Linked DNA regions of Homo sapiens: region 1 is linked to region 2. The links come from fine-mapping of genetic effects on gene expression. A gene starts in region 2. The other region holds a variant in brackets. All regions are shown on one strand. Distances are from middle to middle. Region 1 has its middle 31 kb from the start of ARC. Region 2 holds the start of ARC (activity regulated cytoskeleton associated protein).

Evidence for each region. PIP is the estimated chance that this variant, and not a neighbour inherited with it, causes the effect.
Region 1: its variant is the best candidate, but not a certain one, in a credible set for the expression of ARC in whole blood (TOPMed, PIP 0.51).

What each region holds. Positions count from the first base shown.
Region 1 is chr8:142,581,012-142,586,368 of GRCh38, forward strand. No RefSeq gene overlaps it. Among named protein-coding and RNA genes, the nearest start is that of ARC, 31 kb to the right of the region's middle. RefSeq lists an enhancer at 4,788-5,357. The variant T/C (reference allele first, on the strand shown) is at 2,270.
Region 2 is chr8:142,612,067-142,617,423 of GRCh38, forward strand. It overlaps ARC (activity regulated cytoskeleton associated protein), which reads right to left and starts at 2,413. Exons shown (of 3, transcript NM_015193.5): 1 at 418-2,413; 2 at 42-186. The coding sequence starts at 2,205. The coding sequence ends at 1,015. RefSeq lists an enhancer at 1,606-2,504 and a silencer at 2,520-2,729.

The DNA of each region.
Region 1 (5,357 bases), 31 kb before region 2:
CGAGGGGCAGCCAGCACAGGTTCCGCCCTGCCCTGGGGTCAGAGGTCTGAGACCCTGGTGGCCCTGGAGTCTGAGGAGAAGATGGGAGGGGTCAGGTCTTCCAGGAGAGGGTGGGAGAGGGTGGGGGCGCTGCCCAGCCAAGGAGGGGCCTCATGAGTGCGGGGAGAGGCGGCTGCTGGGAGCAGGACACCAGGCCCTCTCCTCTCTCAGCCTGGGGCAAACTTGCTGAGTTTTCTGGGAGGAAGCTCCAGAGCGTGGCTGTCCCAACCGAGGGGAATTTAAACTAGGCTGGGCCCAGCCATGGGATGGAGCTGGAGGTGCCAAGAGGCTGGCCCCTGAGCTCACAGTCATCCTGGGTCTCCCCGCTTGTCCCAGAAGCTTTGCTAGGGAGACTGATCAGCCCCGGCCGTGAGTGACTGCCCCGTCTGCCCGTCCACCCGCAAACAGCAGAAGCTTTGCTAGGGAGACTGATCAGCCCCAGCCGTGGGTGACCGCCCCGTCTGCCCGTCCGTGAGTGACCGCCCCGTCTGCCCGTCCGTGGGTGACCGCCCCGTCTGCCCGTCCGTGGGTGACCGCCCCGTCTGCCCATCCACCCCAAAACAGAAATTGCTTGCTAGGCTCCTAGACGTCATCCGACCAAGGAGAAGGGACCAGGCGGCAGGCAGGGGAGCGCCTCGACCGCGTTACTCTCCCTTGATGGCAGCAGAAAGGGAGGCATTCTCAGGGTGCGTGTGTACCACTGAGCCCCCAGAGGCCTCTTCTGCACAGCGGCTGCTGCGGAGGTGTTGGGAAGGGATTCCCGAGGTGAGGTTTGGTTCTCAGCTGCAGGGGACAGACTTCCAGGTGCCCTGAGGGATCTTAGAACTGGACCAGGCTACCCAGCAGCCCCCACAGGTGAGCCCAGCAACTGCCACCGTGCAGGGTTGGGGGTGATACCTTCCCACAGGTATCCACCCCAGACCCAGCGAGCCACTGTCTGCAGAGTCAGCAAGATTGCTTCCCGAGAAAGCCTGTCCAGCAGCCAAGGGCTTACAAGGGACCAGTTCTCAACAGTCTGGAGGTTGAGGGGAACTTCACCCAAAGGATTCTGGCCTCAACTGACTCTGCAGGCAGCTGAGGGAATTCCTGAGCACACGTGGCCCTGAGGCTGAGAAGGAGGAAGCTCTGGAAACAGGAAGCCGCAGTACCCTGACCCAGGCAGGGGCCCTGAGACAGTGGAGCCCACAGTTGGCCTGAGGAAGGGTCCCCTAGGAGGGGCCACTGACCAGGGCTCTGGGGAGGGGCTTCCCTTCCTAGAAACCCTCACCAGCCCCTAACCATCCCCAGGAAGAGGCTGGAGGGCTCCAAGAACACCACGGATGGGGTGGTCGCCTTAGCTCATGCTATGGGTTTGGGCTCACTGTCATTTGGGATCGTGCGTGTCCTCCCTCGAGTCCATGAGTCAGCCCCACTGCCTGAGATTGCGGTCCAGGATTGACCTGAAGAATGGAACCAGTCCAGAGGCGGGGGATGCGGCTGCCCTCGGGCTCATGACTGACGGCCCAGGCATCTTCAGAGGGGCTTTCCTGGGATTACAAGCCCCCAGCAGAGACAGCTAGGGCGTGGCTAAACCCACTGCCATGTCAGGAAACTTAGCAGTAAAGCCTTCTCCCACTCCCCACAATGGGACACGCTGGTGACAGCAGCCTCGGTCCTGGGCAGGCTGGAGAAGGACGTGGCCCCTCAGTCCTGCTGGAGGCCTCGGGAATGACCCCCGCCTAGGACACAGCCAGCTCCACTATGGGGTCACCCTGAGTCTTCTTTAGGAGACTCTTAAGAGATAACATCCCTGAGGAAACTCTGTCCAGTAATAGAGTTTTGTTTTGTTTTGTTTTTAATTTTTTAAAGAGCTGTCCTCTGAGAGACGCTTGTCATCACCACCAACCCTGGGGAGCTGGGAAAGTTCCTAAGAGAATATCCCAGCTTCATAACTGCTGCAGTGGGGAGCTCCCTGAGCCACAGCCATAGCCTTTCTCAGGGGCGTGTGTGAGGCTGGGGGACAGAAGGGAGTGGAGACGCGGCTCCAGGCTCCAGGTGGCTGTGGAGGGGTGTGTAGAGGGTGTGGTCCCCAGGGTTTCTCCCCCCATGCCAACAGCTGCCCCTGGAGAGATAGGCCCAGGGCTCTGAAGAGAACTGGGGGCCTGGGACCTGGGCCACTGGGCTGAGGCCTTGGTCTGGGACCCCGTCTCCAGCCGTGGAAAGTGGTTTTGGCACAGAGCTGGAGGGGTGG[T/C]GGCCAGGCCTAGAGACAAGGCTCCTGTGTGTGGCTCGCTGGGCGGCCAGGGGGGATGACCACAGGTGGCCTCCTTCAGCAACTTGGGCCCCAAGCACCCTCCCTGCTGGACAGCCTGGCTTTGGGGACTGTAGGGAGACCCAGGAGCAGGCCTGCTGCCCCCTGCTCCCTGACAGGACCCCTGGGCTCACTCCTTCCCCAGACCTCCGGAGGGAATTTGGGGTGAGGGTGGGATGAGGCAGAAGTGGGGGAGGGACAGAGACCCTGACCCAGGCCCCCGGGCTCCCTAGGGAAACATGAGTTTCCTAGTCCCCACAAACCCTGCAGACAGCAGGGGACCCTCTAGAAGAGAGGCTGGAATTGGCCCAGGGGGACCCAGGGACAGAGGTGACAGGGCCAGGCTTAGGCGGGCAGCCATTGGTCTAACCAGGGTTTACAGGGCCATTCTTAGAGAAGCAGAGCTCAGCGGCACACAGCTTCTCAGGGACCTGGGTGCAGCCGGCCAGGCACAGGGACCAAGGGGTCTGCCAGAGGTGGGGCAGAGCATGGGTGAGAGTCAGGTTCTCTCCGGGAAATACTTCGAGAGGGGCAGGGAGGAGTAGCTGGGGGTGCCATGGGCGTGGAGTGGGGGTGGCGTCATTGACAGGAGCCACGGCCAAGGCCTAGGGGAGGTTTTGTGGAGAAACGGGAGCTGGGAGCAGCAAAGTCAGGACTCTGGGGCGGTGGGCGGGAGGAGCTGCTGCCCTGGGGACCCCGAGGCCTTACGGGGTGAGCACCTCAGGAAAAGCAGGCTGGGGGTCGGGGGCAAGCTCCGCTTTGGCCGGGCTGAGGTCAAGGCACCTGTGAGTGAGTTGGAGTGAGGGGAGGAGCGGCAGGGCCCTGGAGTAGAGTCCAGGGGAGGTCCCAAGCCCAGGGATAAGCTCTGTCATGGGGTGAGAGACAGGGCAGAGACAGACTGGAGGCTGGGAGGCCAGGAGAAGGGCTGGAGTCAGGGACAGGGGTCTATACCCACCCTCCCCCCGCCACCCCACTGGTGTCTGAGAAAGGACTCCCACAGGGTCCCCAGAACTTGGTCTGAGTTCCTCAGTGTGCACTGGTCACTACTAGCATGGACTGGAAAGCCGGGCGTGGAGTACGTGGAGATCCAGACTCCACAAGACGAGGCTGAGCACAGCCACGCCTCCCCTGGGGCGCCCCTCGGCGAGGGACAGGGCCCTGACTGGTGACAGCTTACTTCACAAAGGGGACACCGAGCCTGGAGAGTGGCTGCTCTGCGGAGCCCGTGCAGGACCTGCGGTGGCTGGTCTGTGCCTTTCACCCATGGACGGTGCCCCCCACCATGCCGCCTGAAGTCCACAGAGGGGATGGGGGACCGTGGACCTGGGGCACGGGGTGGCAGAGGCAGCGTGGCGCTTGTGGGTGGGGAAGGGCCCCATCTGGGTGGGACACAGGGTGGGCATGCACAGTCTCCTCCCCCATCTCGGCTGAGCCCTGCTGCAGCCCACGGCTCCCAGAGCAGGCCTGTCACCCGCCGACTCATGCATCCTGCATAGAATAATTGAGTGCCCAGAATGTTCTGTCCTACATTGGCTTGGGAAAGGGAGAAAAAGATGTAACCAAGGTCATCTTCACCCCTGAGGGCTCGAAGCCCAGGAGAGGAGACAGGCTTGTAAAGGGAGAGCCATCCAAAAAGGTCAGTGGAGAAAATCTGGGCAGGCCTCCCAGAGGAAGGGGCTCTGGGTTGGAGCTGAAGGCACAGACAGGAGTTTGCTAAGTGGTGAGGAAGGAAAAGTCTTGCAGCAGAGAGAACGACATTCAAAGGCCCGGAGTGGGACGAGTGCAGCCATTCCGGGGGCAGGAGCGCTGGGCGCGGTGGCCCGGCCTGGGGGACCCACGTGGCTTCTGCAGTGGAGCAGCGAGTCGGTGCCGGTTTGCAGAGCCCTTTAGAAACGCAGGGCTCAGGAGCTAAGGTTTTGTCTTAGGACTGAATGGAGGCTTCACAGCAGTGCAGTCAGGAGAGGAGGCTGACAGGGCCGAGGGGCTGTGCAGGTGGGAGCCTCCCTTCCTTCCGCTGGACTCCACAGGACGCCCTTCCCCTCAGCAGTCACGGTGGCCTCTGCGTGGCCCCCGCTGGGAGACAGCGTGAGGGGTCGCAGCGGCGCCATCAAACTCCAGGTCCTTCCCTTGCATTTCTCAGGTTTCTGCAAGGGGCACGTGGGGGCACGTCCTAAAAACCCACTGCGCCTCCCGTCCCTGCCCACCCAGGCCGCGGCTGCTCCTGTGTCTATCTCTGACTCCCTGGAAGTTCTCCTCCAACCCCACCCCACACACCACCTGCTGTCTCCCTCCCACCTCCTTTCTTCCTGGTTCTGGGTCCCCAAATGCCCCGGAGCTGCGTGGGATAGGAGCCTCGCTGGGGGGAGGCGGGGGCTGGGTGGTGAGGATCGGGGAAGCTGAGCTCTCAGGACTGGGGGCCCCTCCTGCACCCGTCTCCACAGCAGCACCTTCCCGAGCCCGAGGTGGCCAAGCCTTGCGTGTGACTGTGAACCAGTGCCTGCCGCAGGCCCCGCCCTCAACCTCGTCCTCCATCGCGTGCTGTGGGGCCTGGGGAGATGACTGAATGGCTAGGTGCCTCAGTTTCCCCACCTGTAAACCAGTGTCGGCTGCACGTGGTTGTGATGAAGACTGAGTGTCGATATGAAAAGCACTTGGACAAGTCCGGTCACAGGAAAATGCGGTGCTGCGGGAGGGGCCACACTTGGAGGAGCTGGAGTGCTGGGGTGAGGCAGGGAGGGAACGGGCTGGAGGTGGTCATGGGGCCCTGCCCTTAGATGAGCTAACTGGGGAAATGGCTTCTGAGAGGGGGACGTCCGTGTGGAAATGGGAAGAAGCTGGCCGGGTGCAGGTTGCGGGGCAGGCATGAGGGGAGGCAATTCAGGCAGCAAAAGCAGCAGGGTCAAAGGTCAGAGGACGTGGGCCCGTAGCCTCGGAGGAACCGGAGGAGCAGAGCAGAGGCCAGAGGGCCAGAGTGGGTGGCAGGGAGGCTGGCAAGGGAGGTTGTGGCCATTGTCCCAGGACCAGGGGAGCC
Region 2 (5,357 bases):
GCTGATGGTGGGGTCTGGGTGGAAGGGTGGTGCTCCGTTACCTGTTGTCACTCTCCTGGCTCTGATGGTGCCAGCTGCTGCCTCAGCCGGATTTGAGGACTCAGCCCCTCTGGGACCCTCCGCCTGCCATGGGTGAGTCATGAGCTGAGCTCTGATTCTTCTCCAGGCGGGCGTGAATCACTGGAGCTGGGGGAGAGAAAGCGCGGGTCCATGTGAGAGCTGGCTCAGCAAACTGCCCCTGCCTCCCACCCGGCCCACTCTCCCCAATGCCCCCTTCCATGATGCCAGCCCCACCCCATCCCTTTGGCTAACTTGCTGGGGGCCCAAGCCTCAGTGGGCTCTCCTAGAAAACAGCCTCCGGATCCCGCCAGCTCTCAGATGCCCCACAGCCGGTACTGCCTTGGGGCAGGGGCTCACCTGAGGGGCCAGGAAGCACCGGGACATCAGGTCTGCTCTGCTGCGTGTGCGACTTCTACTCTCCCCTGGGAGGAGGGGGCCGCGCTGCCCGAGGCTGGCCAGCTGCCCTGGGAGGCAGGGAGGGCGTCAGCTGGCTCTGCGGATGCCGGGAGAGGGCGGCGGCGCCGGAAGTCGAGGCTCCCTCAGCATTGGCTCTGCCCTAGCTTCTGCTCTGGGTGTCCCATGAGCTTGGTGGCCGCTGGCCCCTGCCATCCGGACACTTGGTTTTCTGGATGTCCAGAGGGCCTGGGTGTTGTAGCAGAATGAGGAAGCTGGGGTGTTCTGTGATGGCCTGAGAGTGTGGAGGGTGGGGTCCAGGCCGGAAAGACAGACGGAGGGAGGGTGATGGGTGGAGCCCTGCAGGGGGGAGGGCTCTTTGCCGCTGGGTGCGGTGCTCACATCTGGATGACACGAGTGTGTGCGAGTCCGCCCGGAGCTCGAGGGGGCACCCAGCTGGACCAGGGCTTCCCCTGCAGGAGTCAGCCCCAGCTCAAAAGTCCTGGTGGGCAAAGCCACAGGCTGGATGTAGTGGGCAGGCTGGGGGCTCCGGGATGCCCTCTACTCGGGCTGGGTCCGGTCACTGGCCACGGACTCGCTGTTGGGGGCGGGCGTGAGGGTCTCCGCCTCATCCTCCACCGGGAGGTGGGGGCCGGCCGGCTCGGCCGCCTGCTCCAGGTCATCCTGCACCTCCATGCCCCTCTGGATGAGCTGCTCCAGGGTCTTGGGCAGGGGGTGGCGCAGGAAACGCTTGAGCTTGGGCTGCAGGGTGCCCACCACGTACTGGATGATCTCCTCCTCGTCCGCGTCCACGTAGAGCGTCTGGTACAGGTCCCGCTTGCGCCACAGGAACTGGTCCAGCGGCTCGCCCTGCTTCTGCGGCAGGTCCAGCTCGCGCTGGATGGCCTCTCGGGACAGCGTGCCCTCGCTGTACTGCAGGAACTCCTTCTTGAACTCCACCCAGTTCTTCACGGAGCCCTGCTTGAACTCCCACCACTTCTTGGCCGGCCCGTTCATGTGATTCTGGATCTGGGACAGCCAGTACTCCTCAGAGCCGCCCACCTGCCGCAAGTACTCCTCTAGGTGGCTCAGGAACTCTCGAGGGTCCTCGAAGATCTGCGTGTCCACGCCGGGGCTGGGCTGCCCGTCCTCGCCGGGGACCCACGGCTGGTACTGCTGGGCCTCGGCGGGCTCCTGCCCGGGCAGCTCGCCAGCGGCTGGGGGCGGGGTGATGGCGTAGGGGCTGACGGTGTAGTCGTAGCCGTCTGCCTCGTGGCAGTAGCTCTCGGGACCCCCCACGCCCACGGAAACGGTGTGGCGGGCTGACTCGCTGCCCACCGGGTACTTGCCGCCCGTGGACTCCAGGCGGTCGGCCCAGCGCTCCAGGCGGTAGAACACCTCGCGCCACACGTGCATCTCGCGCTTGACCCAGCGCTCCAGGTTGGCGATGGTCTCCTGGCAGCGGCACAGGCAGGCCTTGATGGACTTCTTCCAGCGCTGCGAGTCGCTCGTGGGCACGTAGCCGTCCAGGTTGCTCTCCAGCTTCCCGACCGACCGGTGCAGCCCCTTCAGCTCGCGCTCCACCTGCTTGGACACCTCGGCCAGCAGGTGCCGGTGCGTCCGCCGCACGTGCTCCAGCATCTCGGCCCGGCACTTCCCGATCTGCAGGATCACGTTGGGCTTGGCCACCTGCCCGCCCCGCGGCCCGGGGTAGGCGTGGAGCCCGCCGCTGGTCCGGTGGTCCAGCTCCATCTGTGCGCAGGTGCTCCGGCAGGCGGCAAACTCCTCGGGGCGGACAGAGGGTGGTCCGGCGCTGGGGTCCGGCGGCCTGGGTCCCGTGCGGAGCTGCGGGGAGCGCCTGTCTGTCGCTGCGGGCCGGCGGCGGGGCCGGCGGAGCACGCCCGGGGAGGCAGGTCCGGCTCGGCTGCTGCGGAGGGAGGACGCCGCGCCCGAGCTCTGCGCTGAGTCCTGGCCGCCGGCTCTTTATGCAGCCAGCGAGGCCCGTGGGCGGCCGGCTCGCCGAGCCCGGTTTCTCATTGGCCCAGCCGCAGGCTCCCCGCCAGCGCCCCGCCCGCGCCCCTGCAGGCCCCGCCCTGCGCCCACTCGGCTCCCGGGCGGCAAGGGACGGGAGGTCCCACCCCCTGCACACATGGCGGGGCCAGGATGACTAATCCCTCCGCTCCGTACCTCCCACCCCGGACGGCGGGGCTCATTCAGCCTGCGGGGACCGAGGGACTGAGCCGGGCACTGGGCGCCCCTCCCACGCCCCCTCCCGGGCGCTGGGCGGGCTGTCATCTGCTGCCTCCCAGGGTCCCAAGGTGGCCTTCCTCCTCTCCACTCGCCTCTCTCTTTGCGGGGCTGGAGGGGGCTGGCGCTGGCCACTGCTCTCCTGGGTCCTCACTGCCCCTGACCCCGCCCACCCAGCTCTGCAGGATGTGCAGCTGAGCCCGGGAAGGACCCTCACCATCAGCCTCTGTGCCCAGGGGCTCAGCAAGTCTCCATGTGAGCTCCCAGATGTGGCTTTGAGCTCCCACTCACTCCTGCCCGGGTCCTGAGTCCAGGTCTTGGGCTCTGTGTGAGGGACGCACAGCCAGGCAGAGGCTCGCTCTGCCTGGCCCTGGCGTTGGTGTGCATGGGTGACAGGGGCCCACGTGGCAGTGACTGGACAGGGCTGCCCCATGCCCCCATACGCAGGTCTCTGGTGAGGCCCAATACTTTTCTGTGTTTCCAGGGAAATCTGGCAGCTGCTACCTGGGGGGCTGGGGTTTGGAGGACATGGAGGGGACATTTAGCCCCCAGTGAAGGGAATTGGGCCCTGAAGACCCTGGCTATATCAAGAACCTGGCCAGAGGCTCCAAGACTTCTAAGGGGATGGAAGAGGGGAGGAGAGAGGGAGACAGGGAGGGAGGTGGAAGGAGGGAAAGGAGAAGGGGAGGGAGGAGAGGCGAGGAGGGAGAGGGAGGGGGGCCGGTGCTGGCAGCACAGTGCCATCAGGAGAGGCAGAGGGAAGCCAAGCACCATATAAGGAGCGGGGCTCCGGAAGCCGAGACTCCCTCGGGAGGGAGGTCCCTTCTGCCTCCCTGGCAACCTGGCGGGGGTAGGGACGCCCTTCCTGAGTTACTCCAGTGCTGGCTGGATAGGCATGGGTCTCAGGTCCTCTGATGTTACCCAGGCAGGGGTGACACACACCATTCCCCACAGCCAGAGGGCCATGAGGACATCATCGCTGACAATCAAGACATCTTGTTCCTGCTGCCAGCTGCCCTTTCCCTCTCTCAGACACACACATGCTGCACACTCACACCCCCACATACACACTCATAGCCCCCACTCTAACCCCACCCCACACACTCATGCCCTCACTCACAGCCCCCACACACACTCATACCCCCCACTCATAGCTCCCACATACACACTCATACCCCCCACTCATAGCTCCCACATACACACTCATACCCCCCACTCACAGCCCTCAGCTCCCCCCAGCATCCCCTGTCTTATTCAGGCACTCAAGGGCACACAGGTGCCCACTTGCTGGAATCCCCCCTCCCTGCCAACCCTCTGAGCCCCCCCCCAACCGGCTCTCCCGGGGAGCCCTCTCCCAGCCTCAGAGCCAGTCTGTCTCCTCCTTCCTTCCGCCCCTGGGGGGGAATGTCTTTCTGGCAAAAAAACTCCCCAAAAATGGCTCTCCTGGCATTTCTAATTAAAGGTAAGTGGGCGGACAGAGAAGGGAGGGCGGAGGGGCACCGCGGAGCTGGGAGGGGGAGCCAGGCAGAGAAGTCTCCAGCACAGGGACCTTCCCGCTTCTCCACTGCGGAATCCCAGGGAGAGGAGCTGGGTGGGCACATGCGGGACGGGCAGACGCCAGCAGCCTTGGGTGAGTGCAGCCAGCGGTCACCGAGGGCCACATGTCCGGGTTGGGGCCAGCCTGAGCCTGTAGGTGTTGTCTGGGTGCTGGGCACTGACCGTGCATGTGTGTCCATTGTGAGAGCCAGCACTTCAATGACCAGGGGCCAGCCCCGCCAGGGTTTACAAGCCCGTGTGGCCTCTGACGTCCCCGCCAGGGCACAGCTCTTAGGCCTCTGGCCAGCAGTGGCCTCCAGCTGCCACCCCCACCCAAGGCATCAGCAAGCTGACAAGGAGGCAGGACTGGGGACACGTGAGCCAAGGTCATAGGTGGTGCCGCTGCCTCAGTTCCCTCACCTGTGTGGAGGGAGCCAGGCCTGGAGAAGGGTGAGTGCCCAAGGTGGCCCGGTGAGCAAGGCAGGGCTGGGCAGGAGCCAGGCCCTTGGTGAGGAATCCTGGCGTCCTCTGCTCAATGCCCCGTGGCCCATCACCACCCCTGTCACCTGCTAAACAGCAAGCCAGAAGTGGCCAAGCCGAGACCGGTGGGAGAGCACAGTGCCTGCCCTGGATGGCACGAGGGCAGGCAGCGTCGGGGGTGCCACGCGGAGCCCCGTCTTCCCCTCCCCAACCCCCTCCAGCAGGGTCTGCAGAGGCTGTGAATGCAGGCCTGAGCTGACCGGTGACAGGCAACAGCCGCAGCTGCCAGGAACGCTTAATCGCTGCCCAATTATCGCCCCAGAAGCCCTCACCAAACCCCCGCACTGCAGCCTCGGGAAAGGAGGCCAGGCTGACTCCCATCCACCTGGGGCGGGGGCCTCTCCTGACAGGGGCCTGCCCTGCTCCTCTCTCCAGCCCACCCCCACCCCGTGCCCGTCCCTGACAGCCACTGGAGCAGCATGGCTTGGGGATGCAGGTGGGGGAAGGAACAGGGGAAGGGGGTGGGGGCTAGACCTGCACAAGGAGATTGGGAGCACCTGGGGGATCCCCACTCTCAAAGCCAACCTGGTCTGCTGCTGCGCAGGTCTGACCACTCTGAGGCCCCACCTGCCTGAGAGGAG